Regions from separate parts of the Homo sapiens genome. Here region 1 is linked to region 2. Evidence: fine-mapped QTL for protein levels in blood plasma. A gene starts in region 2. The other region holds a variant in brackets. All regions are shown on one strand. Distances are between the middles of the regions.

Region 1 (8,333 bases), 52 kb after region 2:
AAGAAGGGGCCCTGAAGAGGTCTGCCAGCCCCTTGCCTCTCCCTCCACTGACCAGCACACTGCAGGTGCTTGGGAAATCCAGGGATTGAAGTGAGAGGTGGGGCAGGGCAGGCAGAAACTTCCCCGAGGCAACTGCAAGGAGGTTGACTGAGCTCCATGCTTGGCTGGGGACACAGATACTTATGACTCACTGTTGGTGTTCCCCTCATTACCCTCTAGTAACTGTTATTGATAGTCAATAATGAGCTTGCATTTTCCCAAGTTTGTGTAACTGCCTTGAGGAGTCCTATTTCTCTGAAATAAAATAAATATTGGCACTTAAAATCAAGAGGACATGATCTTGCTAAATGAACAAATTATTATCTCAGTGACCCAGCAGGATGCTGGGGACAGTGGGCCTTCCATGAAAGTTTACTGAAAAAAAAGGATGAATGGATGGAAAGAAGGAAGAAAGGGGGACCTTTAACATTAACTACAATAGGATCATCATCAATGACTGTGGTTATTATTTTTCCATTTTCTGGACATTAGACCCTTTAGCCACATGAATCTTTAGCCACTGGGAGCCACAATGAAAAAAACCAACAAATACTTGAAGAGCATCTACTATGCAGGAGGACCTCCAAAGCTCCTGGTGGCCACTGAGCCCCTCCACAGTCTTTTAGCAATAAAGATAACTTTATTTACCAAATATCTCCCAATTCTCTTCCAATATAAATGCAACAGCAGGGAATGGGATTGGATTTAGATGCCAGGTCAGGTTACCGGGGGGCAGGGAAGGCCAGTGGTGCATCTGGGGTCTGTCTAATCCAGGCTTTCATCCAGTACTTTGCCGTTTCACCCCCAACACACCTGTTCTCATTCATCTGCAGACTGTCTCTTTTCATGATCTGCTGAAGAGGCTTTAAACAATCGTGGAGAACCAATGTATCTTTCCATCTGCATTAATCAGACAAAAGGTAGAGGTTGTCTAAGATTAAAAATGTCTAATACCTAAGTTTTATTATCTCCTCCCCCCCCCCTTTTTTGTTTTGATCTTAGGACTTCAAGGACAGCAAGGAAGAAAAGGAGAATCAGGAGTTCCAGGTAAAGGGCAGGCTGCATCTTCATCCCTCGGAGTGATGACGGGGAAGGCCTGCCTTCTCAGAGGGCAGGTCTTGTTGACATTGAATGCACAGCTGTGACCTTCTCCCAAAGTGGAGGTTAAGACTCCAGGGCTCTGTCACTCAAGCCTCAGATTTCTCCGCTGCAAAACCTGGGAACCACAGGAACTCAACATCCTGAGGGGTGTAGCGTATGGGGCAGGGGCTGAGGATGGCAAAGGGGCTGAGGATGGCAAAGGGGAAAAATGTCAGGAGAGCTGGGGGTGCAGGCAGAGGCTCCAGGCTCTACAGCCGCCATGGAGCTGTGCCCCTTCTGCTCCATCCACGGCTGCTGCTTCCCCACCTCAGCTGTGGCCCACTTGTCTCTTCTTGGCCCCCAAGCTTCTCCTCTCTGCCTCCTGCTGCCTGTCACTGGGCTTTCTTATTCTTATCCTCACCTCCAGAGCCTGTGCTTCAGTTGGGTACTGAGCTGGCACCAGCTGGACGGTGTTTCTAGGCCTCTCAAGAGCCCTGCCCCTGTGAGTGCAAAAGTGAGATTTTTCAGACACATTTCTTGAGCAAGTTTTCTTCCTCATAAGCTAGATATTCTATTATGTTTTATGGTTTTTTTTTTTTTCAATTTTTTTAGAGACAAATTCTCTGTGTCACCCAGGCCCGAATGCAGTGGTGCCAGGACAGGATAGCTCACTGTAGCCTTGGCCTCCCGGGATCAAGTGATCCTCCCACCTTCGTCTCCCAAAGCTTGGGATTACAGGAGTAAGCCACTGTACTCGGCCTCTGTTACTATTTCAATTCACTAAAGGAGACATCGAGGCTTAGAAACATTCTAGCAAATTCTCCCAGCATGGCTAGAACTTCCACATAACTATGTAATTCCAGAAGGACCAAGAATCTGTGGAATACCACCAGCTATTTTAGCCTGCCTGTTCTCGACAGCATTTACCTAAGAGTTGAGAGATCAGTGCAGCCCCCAGATGGACCAAAGACAGGCTGAACATTCAGATAGCCCAGCCATGGGGGAGGTCTGGCAGTTAAGGATAACTCATTTATTAAACAGTAATGCCCTTGGGTCTCTCTTGGGAAGGCAAAGCAGGGCACCTGATCAGGGCAGTGTCTCTCCTTCCAGGCCCTGCAGGTGTGAAGGGAGAACAGGGGAGCCCAGGGCTGGCAGGTCCCAAGGGAGCCCCTGGACAAGCTGGCCAGAAGGGAGACCAGGGAGTGAAAGGTAAGGCCTCTGCATCTGATTCCTTTGTTCTTAGGACTGTGCTTTACAGCCAGTTCTGTACCTTAAAATAGGAAAGGCGCTGTTTTAAGAGTTCTGGGGATTTTCAGAACCCAGGAGGGTAGAGGTTTATTTCCTTGATTGACAAGTCTTGTGCTGGGGCTTGCCCTAGGCATGGAGCACACAGCAGCGGGTTAGGCGCAGCTCTAGCATCCAAGGCAGGGGCGTGAACATGCACTTGAGCCATGCCCCACGACCCAACACTCCTAGGCAGTTTCCATGAAGGAGATGAGCCCATCCCACTCCATATCTCTGACCAGACCAAGCATCCCTCACCAATCTAACTTCAACCCCTCTTGCTGTAGCTCAGGCCCGTTTCTTCCTGCTCAGTCATTGACACCCGCAGGACATCCCATCCCCATAATGCCAGGCCACAGGCGAGACCCACGGAGCATCTGACCACTCCCAACCCTCCACCCGCTCCCCACTCATGCAAATGCAGGCAAAGGCGTCCTGCCTGGGTTTCTTTCAAACCGTGTGGGTTTTCTCCTCATGACAGGATCTTCTGGGGAGCAAGGAGTAAAGGGAGAAAAAGGTGAAAGAGGTAATCACTATTTATATTATCTTTAATGTGTGCTTTAAAGTCAATTCTGCACCTGAAAATTGTGTGTGTTGGGGGAAGAGACCTTGGTTCTCAAATAAATTTCTCATTTTGGGGAGGAGTTGAGGGTCTAGTCCCTTGAATGAGCCTGCCCACGGCACAGAGCAGCAGTTTCTCTCCCCAGCCACTCTCTCCCTTCCTTCCTTCTCTCCCTTCCTTCCCCCTTTCTCCTTCTTCCTTTCCTTTTCTCTCTCCCTCCCTCCCTTCCTCCCCTTTCCCTTCTTTCTTTCCTCTCCATCCCTCCTTCCTTTCCCTCTCTCTCTCCATTCTTTCCTTCCTTCCTTCTCTTTTCTCAGCTTTCCTTTTTTTCTCTCCACAACACATGACAAGACGTGGTGTATGCGATTTGCAAACCAGCCACAGGGGCACCTGCCCCTGTGGCCTTGTGCCTGCAGGCCCCAGGTGCATGGAGGCTGCGTGCCAGGTTGGGTTGGCACTGTAAAGTGGGATCTTCCAGGCTCTGGTGACAGTCAAGCAGGGGCATTTCTTTTCCTTAACTGTAGAACTCCAAAATGAAAAGAAAGAGCCCGCACTTACCCAAAGCCCCAAGGGGCCTTCCTTGCCTCTCCCATGTGTGTTTCTTCACCCAGGTGAAAACTCAGTGTCCGTCAGGATTGTCGGCAGTAGTAACCGAGGCCGGGCTGAAGTTTACTACAGTGGTACCTGGGGGACAATTTGCGATGACGAGTGGCAAAATTCTGATGCCATTGTCTTCTGCCGCATGCTGGGTTACTCCAAAGGAAGGGCCCTGTACAAAGTGGGAGCTGGTAAGTGAGTCATCAGCCGGGGGCCTCTTCCCCAGAGGTGTGGATGTGGCTTTCTCTCGCTGGTGGGGTGTTGGCAAGTGACTCAGTGTGGTTTTCTTTAAAAGAAAAATATTGGTCCAAGCAACCAAAAAGCTCTGCAGTGCAGGGCTCCAGGTATGCATCCTTCCAGCTTGGCAACCCCAGCAGAAAGATGGCCTGTCTTCTCCAGCGCTGACAGTGAAGGCTGGCCTGGCTTCGGTCAAGGTCCATCCAGCCCTGGAGTCAGAATGCCACATGGCTGAGGGTGTTTGCCGCAGATGGCTCTCCAAAGGACAGCTGAGTTGATGCAACTGGAAGAACAGAGAGAAGATTCAGGGCAGGCAAACGCAGATGTTCACTCCAGCTGTCTGTGAACCAGCAGCCTGGATTGACCAGCAAGCAGTCTTGGCTGTGATCATCTTTAAAGAGAAGATGGGAAGGGAAGAGAAAGCAAATCAGAGCAGGGACTTACTAAAATGTGTGGAAAATGTCTTCGGATGCTGGAGACTCAGCCTATATCTTTCAGCCAAAAGTTCAAGCCTTGAGCAAAGAAGTTAAGTCCCCAGGCAGAACCCTTTTCTCTGGCTATAGGATCTGGCCCAGCAGGACATGAGGCCAGTTTCCCTTGCTCCCAGCCCCAAGTGCTCCCTGTCCTTACCCAAACCAAAGCAAATGCCCACTTTAGAGCAGGGCGATGGCTTGATTACAGAGGCATGTGAGGCAGGTGGACGCAGCAGGAGTGAATTTGCAGGGAGGAAACTAAAGGACACCCGCCTAGGAAGATATTTCAAATAGTGTGGGGTTTAAGCATTAAAGATTTGCATGAGACTTTTGTCAAAGGGTAGAGAATAGAACGGAGGCAAAGTCATTATAAAAACAACAACAACAACAACAACAACAACAAAAACAGGCTAAGCCAGCCATCAGCACATTGGGCCGGAATGGGCCAGAATGAGTGAGAAGTCGGCAGTCCACCTCAGATGGAAGCTCCCAGGCGCACACGTGGCTTCTTTGCTTTGACTCTAATCCTACCCTTCTTCCTCTGTCTCTTGCTTTCTCTCTATCAAGGCACTGGGCAGATCTGGCTGGATAATGTTCAGTGTCGGGGCACGGAGAGTACCCTGTGGAGCTGCACCAAGAATAGCTGGGGCCATCATGACTGCAGCCACGAGGAGGACGCAGGCGTGGAGTGCAGCGTCTGACCCGGAAACCCTTTCACTTCTCTGCTCCCGAGGTGTCCTCGGGCTCATATGTGGGAAGGCAGAGGATCTCTGAGGAGTTCCCTGGGGACAACTGAGCAGCCTCTGGAGAGGGGCCATTAAT[A/G]AAGCTCAACATCATTGGCTGTGGCTGAGTGTCACTGTGTTCATACCTCCCATCCCCATTGATGTGCCCACTCCATGCACCACAACATTTCATTGAATTCTCTCATGTCCGTAGCCAGGGGAAGGAGAGGTTGGAGGTGGTGAGGCAGAAGGTGAAGGTCACCTATGGTCAACCTTAGTCTTGACCATCTCTTCAGTCATTCAGACATAACATCTCTCATGGTGAGCTCTCTATCCCCCTTTTTGTCCTCCCCTGACAGTGACCTGGTAACATTCCAGCACACACATGAACTCTCTTCATGCCCTATGCTGTGTGCTCCACCCTGACTCCACCTGCCCAACCGGTCCTTGCTCTCTCTCAGCGCCCTGCCTGCTGGGCTAAGCCCACTCTCCATGTTGCAAACCACATAGTAAGCCTGAAATCAGTCTTAGAGTCTCATTGATCTTTCCTTCCATACATGGGTGGGATTTACAGAATGGAAATATTTATCTGGAGTGACAGTAATCAAAAAAGTTTTCTGAAGAAAGCACAATTTGAACTGGACCTTAAAGGGTGGGGAGGATGTGACCCCTTCTTGGCATGCAGTGACTGTCACTCTAGGACCTGTAGGTATAAAAGGCTTCGTTTTCCTGAGCCTCTCCTGTGTCCCTTCTTGTGGCAACAACTCACTAACCATCTACTGAAAGAACAAAGAACACTAGGTATCAGCTTGTTTTTTTTTTTAAGTTTTAGGGTACATGTGCACAACGTGCAGGTTTGTTACATATGTATACATGTGCCATGTTGGTGTGCTGCACCCATTAACTCATCATTTAGCATTAGGTATATCTCCTAATGCTATCCCTCCCCCCTCCCCCCACCCCACAACAGCCCCTGGTGTGTGATGTTCCCCTTCCTGTGTCCATGTGTTCTCATTGTTCAATTCCCACATATGAGTGAGGACATGTGGTGTTTGGTTTTTTGTCCTTGCAATAGTTTGCTGAGAATGATGGTTTCCAGCTTCATCCATGTCCCTACAAAGGACATGAACTCATCCTTTTTTATGGATGTGTAGTATTCCATGGTGTATATGTGCCACATTTTCTTAATCCAGTCTATTGTTGTTGCACATTTGGGTTGGTTCCAAGTCTTTGCTGTTGTGAATAATGCCACAATAAACATATGTGTGCATGTGTCTTTATAGCAGCATGATTTATAATCCTTTGGGTATATACCCAGTAATGGGATGGCTGGGTCAAATGGTATTTCTAGTTCTAGATCCCTGAGGAATCACCACACTGACTTCCACAATGGTTGAACTAGTTTACAGTCCCACCAACAGTGTAAAAGTGTTCCTAATTCTCCACATCCTCTCCAGCACCTGTTGTTTCCTGACTTTTTAATGATCGCCATTCTAACTGGTGTGAGATAGTATCTCACTGTGGTTTTGATTTGCATTTCTCTGATGGCCAGTGATGATGAGCATTTTTTCATGTGTCTTTTGGCTGCATAAATGTCTTCTTTTGAGAAGTGTCTGTTCATATCCTTTACCTACTTTTTGATGGGGTTGTTTGTTTTTTTCTTGTAAATTTGAGTTCATTGTAGATTCTGGATACTAGCCCTTTGTCAGATGGTTAGATTGCAGAAATTTTCTCCCATTCTGTAGCTTGCCAGTTCACTATGATGGTAGTTTCTTTTGCTGTGCAGAAGCTCTTTAGTTTAATTAGATGCCATTTGTCAATTTTGGCTTTTGTTGCCGTTGCTTTTGGTGTTTTAGACATGAAGTCCTTGCCCATGCCTATGTCCTGAATGGTATTGCCTAGGTTTTCTTCTAGGGTTTTTATGGTTTTAGGTCTAACGTTTAAGTCTTTAATCCATCTTGAATTGATTTTTGTATAAGGTATAAAGAAGGGATCCAGTTTCAGCTTTCTACATATGGCTAGCCAGTTTTCCCAGCAAAATTTATTAATAGAGAATCCTTTCCCCATTGCTTGTTTTTCTCAGGTTTGTCAAAGATCAGATAGTTGTAGATACGCAGCATTATTTCTGAGGGCTCTGTTCTGTTCCATTGGTCTATATCTCTGTTTTGGTACCAGTACCATGCTGTTTTGGTTACTGTAGCCTTGCAGTATAGTTTGAAGTCAGGTAGCGTGATGCCTCCAACTTTGTTCTTTTGGCTTAGGATTGACTTGACAATGCGGGCTCTTTTTTGGTTCCACATGAACTTTAAAGTAGTTTTTCCCAATTCTGTGAAGAAAGTCATTGGTAGCTTGATGGGGATGGCATTGAATCTATAAATTACCTTGGGCAGTATGGCTATTTTCATGATATTGATTCTTCCTAACCATGAGCATGGAATGTTCTTCCATTTGTTTGTATCCTCTTTTATTTCCTTGAGCAGTGGTTTGTAGTTCTCCTTGAAGAGGTCCTTCACATCCCTTGTAAGTTGGATTCCTAGGTATTTTATTCTCTTTGAAGCAATTCTGAATGGGAGTTCACTCATGATTTGGCTCTCTGTTTGTTTGTTATTGGTGTATAAGAATGCTTGTGATTTTTGTACATTGATTTTTTATCCTGAGACTTTGCTGAAGTTGCTTATCAGCTTAAGGAGATTTTGGGCTGAGACAATGGGGTTTTCTAGATATACAATCATGTCGTCTGCAAACAGGGACAATTTGACTTCCTCTTTTCCTATTTGAATACCCTTTATTTCCTTCACCTGCCTGATTGACCTGGCCAGAATTTCCAACACTATGTTGAATAGGAGTGGTGAGAGAGGGCAACCCTGTCTTGTGCCAGTTTTCAAAGGGAATGCTTCCAGTTTTTGCCCATTCAGTATGATATTGGCTGTGGGTTTGTCATAGATAGCTCTTATTATTTTGAGATACATCCCATTGATACCTAATTTATCGAGAGTTTTTACCATGAGGGGTTCTTGAATTTTGTCGAAGGCCTTTTCTGCATCTATTGAGATATTGAGATAATCGTGTGGTTTTTGTCATTGGTTCTGTTTATATGCTGGATTACGTTAATTGATTTGCATATGTTGAACCAGCCTTGCATCCCAGGGATGAAGCCCACTTCATCATGGTGGATAAGCTTTTTGATGTGCTGCTGGATTCGGTTTGCCAGTATTTTACTGAGGATTTTTGCATCAATGTTCATCAGGGATATTGGTCTAAAATTCTCTTTTTTTGTTGTGTCTCTGCCAGGCTTTGTTATCAGGATGACGATGGCCTCATAAAATGAGTTAGGGAGGA
Region 2 (8,333 bases):
CCGGATTCAGGGAGAAGGCCAGAGATAATTCCACCAGACAAACCCAGAGTGTTACCATTTTCTTAGTGCTCATATAGTTGGTGTTATGTGCCTACATGCAGTATCGCATTCACTTAAGTCTATTGGTAACTAATTTTGTTTCAGCTATAAGGTCAGAGGCAAAAAATGCTTGCTAAGTCCAACGAAAAGGGCCCCAGTACCTTCAAGGCCTGTCTACTGTGGTACCGGAGTGATTATTTCTATGTTATCTCCTTTACAGCTTGGTCCAGAGAGCTACCTTAGGCTCTCCAATGAATCTATTCAAACACTGCCTCTGTTACCTTTACTCATCTAAAATTTTGTCAACCTGAGACGAAGTGCTGGCACTAGGAATGTAAGACTGTCTCTATTATTTTGTTTGCTCTAGGTTAGGGAGAAGACTATGCAAGGCTCCTACTGACCATGTTTCATTTCTAGCTTTGATGTCTAGGCATTATTTCCCTAGGCTTAACTATTTGCTCAATGTTAAGGCAGCTCTGTGGAAATTTGTCTGTGTAACTAGGGTGCTATGCAGGCCTGTCTGTGTGACGGTCATGCCTGCTTGTCTGTGTGGTTGTCAGGGAGAATTGACCTGCCACACTAGCATGTGTAAGGATCCTCATCAGGCAAGAAAAAGTGTGGGTGGCCAGTCCACACCTGTTACTGGGAGGCTGGCACTGTCACCTCATTCCAATAGCTCTCAAAAGACAAACCTCTGTGAGTTGGGCCAAGGTTCAACAACAATAATTCCTTTTTGTCCTTTAACTTCTGTTTTAATTAACTTTATTGAGGCATGATTTACATGCCATAAAATGCACATACTTCAAGTGTAAAGTTTAGTGACTTTTGTAACTAACACCCCAAACAAGATACAGAAAACTTTCATTTCCTTAGAAGTTTCCTTTGTGCTCCACTCTGGTAGAGTCCCCCTTACTCCCACCCCAGGACCCAATGGCTCTGTTTGCTGACCCTTTGAATGAGTTTTGCTTGTTCTAGAAGCCTGTATAAATGGGATCATACCGTATGTCCTGTCTGAAGTCTAGCTTCTTTTGCTCAGCATAATGGGTTCTGAGATTCATTCATGTGGCATATTTCATTTTACTGCAGACTAGTATTCCATTGCATAGATAGGACACAATTCATTCGCCTGTTCACGGTCATTTGTGTTGTTAATTTTCTCTAATTTTTAAATGATCAACACTTCTTGAGCTTCATTAACTACCAGGAACTTACGTAAGCCTGGGCACTCACAACTGGCAGGAAAAATGAAGTCAATAGATAGAACTTTTAAATGTTTCTCTCTGATACATTCCCTTCAGTCCAGTCTCTCCATCCCTTCCGCTGGTGGGCATAGGCAGATGACTGAGCAGATGTGTGGAAGGGACTCCAGAGAGGTCCCCAAGGCTCGGTTCACCTGTCTGCTGTGGATTGGTTGGTTGGTTTCGGACACATGGGTTTGTGCCGGTAATTTTTATATCATGCGTTAACTTGGTTGCCCCAGTTTTAAGCTGGAATTGGGTTGCTCAAGGGTTCTTCTTGGTGATCTGCCAGGCAGCCCACTGACTGAACTAATTTGGAACCCACCAGCTGATAGGAAATCAAGCTCCATGGAGACCATCAAGAGTGGTCACACTTGCCTGGAACTCCAGCCCCACCACTCCTGTGTGATAAAGCACTGGGAGCCACTTGACCATCACTTCAGAGAATATCAGAACTTGATGTAACTACATTGGGCATTGAGCCCTCCCCAAATGCACATTTAAATACTCCAATCCAATTATATGCATGCTGCTAGACAAATAAAGCCAGACCCTGCATTTCTTGGACAACTTGTCTCCAAATGCAACTTCACCTGGGAAGAAACTGCTGGATCTGTGTTCCTGGAGATAAAAGTGTCTGAGTAAGACTTCAGAAGAGACTGTACCATATTTCCTAAATTGTGTGTTTTGTATTTATAGAAGATTTAAAGGATTTTTAAGGGATTCATTGACAGTGCAGGAGTTTCGTATGACACGCTCTTTTGATATAAAATGCTATTCTGCATATAGAACTTTTGTTTACAAATGTACTTACTCATTTATTATTTTATTTGATCCACACATCCACTCTATGGGTAAACACGGCAACTCTGGGCATCCCATTTTGTAATGGGGATGCTGAAACACAGAGCTAATGAGAGGGCCAGGACTAGGGTAAGCAAATGAGGAGGGTCATTGTACGTGCAAAGTGGGATTCTGTCTTCCTTTAAAATGATGATATTTTGTTCATCGCAGAATTTTTGCATTAACTTTGATTTTTTAAATATATTGCACTAAAATATTATTTATCTTGATTATTGAATCTTTTGTACTCAAGGCTAGTGAATTATTTGCTTCATCCTAATCCCTGAGTCTCAGGCCCTGCAAGGTGAATGGATTAGCTTGAGTCATATAAAGTATCCATTTATTGCATATGAAAAACAGATAAATATCTGTCATTCCATATGATTCAACCTAATGGATCCTCCTAGGATGGAGTCAGGAGGCCACACTGCACATGAGTGCTTCAATTATACCACTCGGTGGTCCTAAGCCTGGTGCACATTAGAGCTCTTTCTGAAATTTTTATTAAAACCAGAGCCTCAGGTTTGGGATGGGAAACTGGCATTCCTCTACTGCAAACCTCTGGATTGGAACCCCTGGATTAAACCAGAATTAAATCAGTCTATAGATTGAGGCAGAGAGTCTGGATTCAAATTCTGGTGTAGCTCTTTATAACCACACAATTTAAGGCAAGTTGCAAGTTATGAGTGTTGAGCAATGTATGCAAATGTTTAGCACAGTGTCTGGCATTAACAGTAAATCCTGGATAGGAATTAATGCTTGCACAAGCCATTACTCTGTGTGGAAGTTCAGAGAAGTAAGTCAACCAAGGTCACACAGAAAGTTAATGAAAGAGTTGAATTTGGGACCCAAGTCTCTCTGGTCTCTAGCCAGAGGTGAAGTGACTACACTTGACATCCACTAAGTGCTTCCTTTAAGAACAGGGATCCTCAATAATTAGCCCATGACATTTTCTAATAAGTCCCCTCCCCACACCCATGAGAATCAAAGATGAGCTGACCAGGCAGAGGCAGAGGGAGAGCAGGGAGCTCTGCCAGGCTAAGTGAGCGGGTTCCTTTGCCTAGGGGACTGCCCTCCAGTGGGCAAATCCCCTGTGTCCTCAATTATCTGGTCCTGTCTACCCCCCAGACTCTAGCTGGAGCCATCACTTCCTCATTTCCAATTTTCCTCTTTAAATTTTTCTGTCCTGGCTTCTGCTGCTTGTCCTCTGGCGGAACCAGTGACTTCCTGAATGTTGAAATTGTGGGCGCCACGGGGGACCTCTGCTTTTCAGGGCACTGCTAGGAGCTCACTTTCCTGAGTTTCATCCCCTTTCACTTTCTGACATACCACGGGCCAAAGAAAGTGACTTCGCCTGGCACAGCTTCACTTCCTGCCACCTGTCTTCCTCACCTCTTACATTTCAAATAGGCCAAAAGTCTACGGCTCCCCTGCTCCAGGCTGTCCCACCTCTGAGAGGCTGCACCTGCCCTCCTTCCTCCCTGGAGGGCCTTTGCCTCATCTTGATCTGGATCAATCCCCCATTATCCTTTTAAGCCCAGCTCTGGTATCTGATATCTCTTGATTCAGATGATAAAGCTATTTGTCATATTTCTGCCCTGTCTCCCCTGCCTCCCGGCACTTCTGTCTTTTCAGGGACATCAACCTTTGCCGCACTTCACAGCAATTTTCTGGAATGTAGTTGTAGCCGCAACCATCTTGCATGGTAGACTGTGAATATCTTTCATGAAAAAAGGCCATTTCTTCATCTCCTCGGTGCCCAGCAGGCTCACAATGTCTCTAATGATAATAACAACAACATGACCATAGTGTTTATTACCTAATACTTCCATCCTAGCCACCTTATATGATTTAATTCATTTAAGGCTCACGAAATTCATATCTTCCTTATTTATACAAACAGAAGAGTGAGATGCTCAAAGCTCAAGTGATTTGCCTACTGCCAGACAGCCCCTATGTGGAAGAGGTGGAATTTGAAGCCAGGCATTCTAGCTCTTAGTGTCTGTGTCTTAACCACCATGCTATACAGCATCCCTGGTAGAGATGCCTGACGGGAGGGAGAGAGGGGAGAAGCTACTTTCCTTAAGGAGCTCAGATCTCACTGGGGCCTGGACAAGGACACCTGTAACACATGTACACATGTGCACACATGTGTACACACACAGAGAGAGAACATGGGAAAACTACAAGAAGAAATACTAAGTGCTAAAATGTGTGGTTCAGAGCAAGGCTTCTCAAACTGTAATGTGTATATAAATCACCTGGGGATCTAGTTAAACTGTAGATTTGGATTTGATCTGATGGGGTGGGACCAGAGACTCATTGTTAGAACAAGTGAACTTGCATTTCTAACAAGTTCTCAGGTGATACTAATACTGCTGGTCCATGGACCACACTTTGAGCAGCAAGGATGAACTCTAAAGGTTGAGGCAGGTCAGAGAAGGGAGATTTCACTGTGGGCTGGAGAGGTCCTGGGACAGAGAGCTGAGTCTGGGCCCATGGCAGGGCTTGGTTGGCCCTCTCTGGAGCCATCCAGCTTTTGGGTCTCAGGGACCTGGGAGTGACGGGTGCATTCAGAGGCCCGTAACTTGTGTCCCAAAGCCTCCTCGATCCCCCTTAACAAGCAGCAGCACTGTGTGGGAGATCCACATGTGAATAGCCCGTGTTTGAGAAATGTCCAATCCTGATCATGTCAGGAAACATCCTGCAAATTCTGAAATCAGAGCCAAAGGGAAGTGCTGCGAGGTTTACAACCAGCTGCAGTGGTTCGATGGGAAGGATCTTTCTCCAAGTGGTTCCTCTTGAGGGGAGCATTTCTGCTGGCTCCAGGACTTTGGCCATCTATAAAGCTTGGCAATGAGAAATAAGAAAATTCTCAAGGAGGACGAGCTCTTGAGTGAGACCCAACAAGCTGCTTTTCACCAAATTGCAATGGAGCCTTTCGAAATCAATGGTAAAGTACGATTCCCCAATAATGGAAATGACCAGAAATGTAGTCTTTCTGCTAGCGAGATACGAAAATAGACAAGTCAATAGAAAGTCTAGGTTTGGCTTATTGCTGCATTTTGCACGTAATCATCACTAATACTGTCTGGAGTGCTTCAATTTGGAATTTCTGGAATGCTAATAATAGATGCTGTATTTTTAGCATATAGTCAGGTTTTTCTTAGCTTCACTATTGTTTTAATCATATTTAAATATTTTCCCTTGAAAAAATGCCAATGCTTATTAAATGTCCCCTTTTTTTAATGAATGTCTTATTCTGACACACAGGTTGGGTGATACAATGAAAACGCAAAACAGGGGCACTGAAAGGGGACCACAAAACTGAAGCCAAGCATGACAGTTTTCAAAACACAGCTTCTTTAAAATTCTTTAAGGGGATTTCTGTTATAACTGATGTGCTGGTCAGGAAACATATTCTGTATTTCATGTTGACTGAAATATGTTCATAGCTTCATAATTAGTTTGTCTTAGGTTAAACTCAGGTCTGTAATATTCAGTCAACTCTGTTGTCTTTATTTTCTCACTCAGCATTCAACAGGTGATGCATTTTTAAAATCTTCTAGAATTTGTAGCATTTGAAGTCATGGGTGGGCTTGCATTCCACAAATGAGCTCTGATTTCCTAGTCTAGAACGTTCTCTTGGGATCATCTTCCAAGTTGATCAGTCATTTCCACTCCCAGGCTTTGCTGGAAGTTGTCTATGCAGGAAAATTGGTGGCTTTATCTCCTGGCCAGAGTGTCCTTCTCATCCCACACCTGTCTGCCCAGGTCCCTGCCTGGAATTTTCAGCGCACAAAGATGAAGCGTCTGGGGCTCTGCCTCTAGGAATTTACAGTGTAATAACAGAGAAAGGTGTGAGTGCTAATGGCTATAATAATCATTGGCTATTTAGAACTTCTCAGAATGCAACATTCTGGATACATGACTGTTTAAGAGACTGAAGATGTTCAAGCAAAGTCAGCTGATCAAGCATACTCAGCACCTATTTCCAGCAGGGCACTGCACTCAGCACTGAGGAAACAGGCTTGAATAAACATAGCCTCTGGCCTCTGGCTTCTGGCACGAGGGGACAGGGGACAGGGTAAGCTGCCCATGAACTGACAATTTCCATGTTGTGACTGAGACTTCCACAGGACATGATGGACAGATCTAACCAGGTGTAGAGCCCTGGAGGGCAGAGCTGACACCTCTTCCAAAGTTTAAAGGATAAAGGGAGTCCGTTAGAGAAAGAAGTTAGTGCCTGGGGCGGGGTGGGCGCCACATGTTTGTATTGTATTCACAAGAAATATTCAGAGAAATATAAATACTTCCATACTGTTTGGCCAAAATTGGGACGGAAAGACCAGTGGGGACTGAGGCTGGAACCAAAAAATTTGACTTCATCCTGAGGTCAGTGGGGAAGCAGGAAGGGGCCGATGTGGGGCTGAAAGGCACTAATGTGCATGTGAGGTTGCTCTTTGTCCTACATAGGGATGGCTGGAGAGAGAAGCTGAGGACAGAGAGGAACTTGGCAGCAAGAGATGATGAGGGGCAGTGGATGGAAGGCAGGAAAATAAAGGAATGCTCTGGAGAAACACCGGAAATCAGATCAATTGGACTGCAATGGCAGGACAGGGCTGGGGAGGAAGACGCAGGAGTTAATAGTGAACCCTAGATTTCTGACCTGGGTTGTGTGTGTCACCAATTAAAAATGTAACTAAGCCAGTGCAGGAGGATTCCTTGAGCCCAGGAATTTGAGACCAACCTGGGCAACATAGTGAGACCCTATCTCCACCAATAAATAAATAAATAAAATGTTTAAAGTATCTCACCAAAAAACCAAAACTACTCCAATTTGGATGAAAGAAACATTTTCTTATATGCATTCACAACATCCTGCCTTCTAATACAAAGATTGTGGAACATATGAAACTTTCTAGAAGAGTGCCATTATGCAGGTAATCACTGTGAGGCTCTGGTAACACAGTGACCCCTCAGGGCCGGCTCTGCACATTACTTATTTTTTGTCTGCTGAAGATTTATTTATTTAGGCCATATATAGTTTTATTTTCTTTTGAAAATACATTATCTTAAAATTCCCACATATGGTTCATGAAAAACAGCACTGAAAAATATTTCTAATGTCATTTTCCTCATTTATTTTTCTCTATTGTTGGTATTGAAATATAAAATGCTGTTTTTCCCTGATTATAAAGTATTAAACTAGTTTTTTTTTATTATTATTACCCAAGGATACTGGACTAGGAAAGTTTTCAACACATGCTGAAGAAAATTTTAGAAGTGAGTTTGGGAAACTTTTGGAATATAACCTTCATTTTTTCTAAAATTAATCTTAAAAAAAGGATGAGGAGTGTAAATTTCACACTGTACCCTCTAGAAGCACAGTGCAACTTGCATCCCTCTTTCCTGCCATCACCTCCAGCCTCCCTCATTAGAACAAGCCTCCTTCATTCCATTATCTGCACTAGAATTAAGGTACTCTTTCTTTTCTTTATTTTTTATTCTAGCTTTTTAGGAGTGTGATTAACAATACAAACTGTATATATTTATGATGTACACGTGATGATTTGATATATGTATCCATGGATGAATAACCACCACAAAGACTGCTTTAGTTTCCTGAGGGGACTTGACATAGGGTTGGCTTCTGTGGCCCTCAGGGTCTCACAGAATCCCAGGTCTCTCCTCAGAGCCATAGAAACTGCTCTTTTGCCCCATCATCCACCTCAACAATGGAACATTTGGGCTTGAACGAGAGGATTTACCTGTTGGCAATATCTTTCTGGGATGTGTCTGTTTCTACCTTTTTGAAAATTAGCAATCTGTGTCTGGCTTTAGGCTTCCTGTCACACTCCTGGCCGTCTGGTTTCTCAAGGAAGACTACTGTTACCACAGCCTAACAAGACAAGCACTTGTTAGGCTGTGCAATGTGATCTGTCGGAACCTCTTGTTTCTTTTTTTTTTTTTTTTTTTCTTTTTTGAGATGGAGTCTCGCTCTGTCACCCATGCTGGAGTGCAGGGGAGCGATCTCGGCTCAGTGCAACCTCCATCTCCCGGGTTCAAGTGATTCTCCTGACTCAGTCTCCCTAGTAGCTGGGATTACAGGTGCCCACCACCATGCCCGGCTAACTTTTATATTTTTAGTAGAGACGGGGTTTCACCATGTTGGCCAAGCTGGTGTCCAACTCCTGACCTCAAGTGATCCGC

Direction of the effects. Alleles are on the strand shown, and positions count from the first base shown. The strength of an association depends on the size of the effect and on how common the allele is.
For the plasma level of the protein whose gene starts at base 4,870 in region 2, A is the high allele of the variant in region 1 and G is the other (moderate association).

Evidence for each region. PIP is the posterior inclusion probability: the model's chance that the variant is causal. Protein levels are from antibody-based Olink assays in UK Biobank. Linkage for the fine-mapping came from a reference panel and not from the study's own genotypes, which makes the PIPs less certain.
Region 1: its variant is fine-mapped to the plasma level of the MARCO protein (UK Biobank, PIP above 0.99).

Annotation. Positions count from the first base shown.
Region 1 is chr2:118,989,548-118,997,880 of GRCh38, forward strand. MARCO (macrophage receptor with collagenous structure) reads left to right here. Exons shown (of 17, transcript NM_006770.4): 13 at 1,042-1,086; 14 at 2,230-2,328; 15 at 2,885-2,929; 16 at 3,577-3,753; 17 at 4,840-5,113. The coding sequence ends at 4,973. It overlaps LOC124906072 (a long non-coding RNA gene), which reads right to left and starts at 3,771. Exons shown (of 3, transcript XR_007087213.1): 1 at 3,524-3,771; 2 at 1,541-1,619; 3 at 660-939. RefSeq lists an enhancer at 2,850-4,049. The variant A/G (reference allele first, on the strand shown) is at 5,095.
Region 2 is chr2:118,937,325-118,945,657 of GRCh38, forward strand. It overlaps MARCO (macrophage receptor with collagenous structure), which reads left to right and starts at 4,870. Exons shown (of 17, transcript NM_006770.4): 1 at 4,870-5,073. The coding sequence starts at 4,977.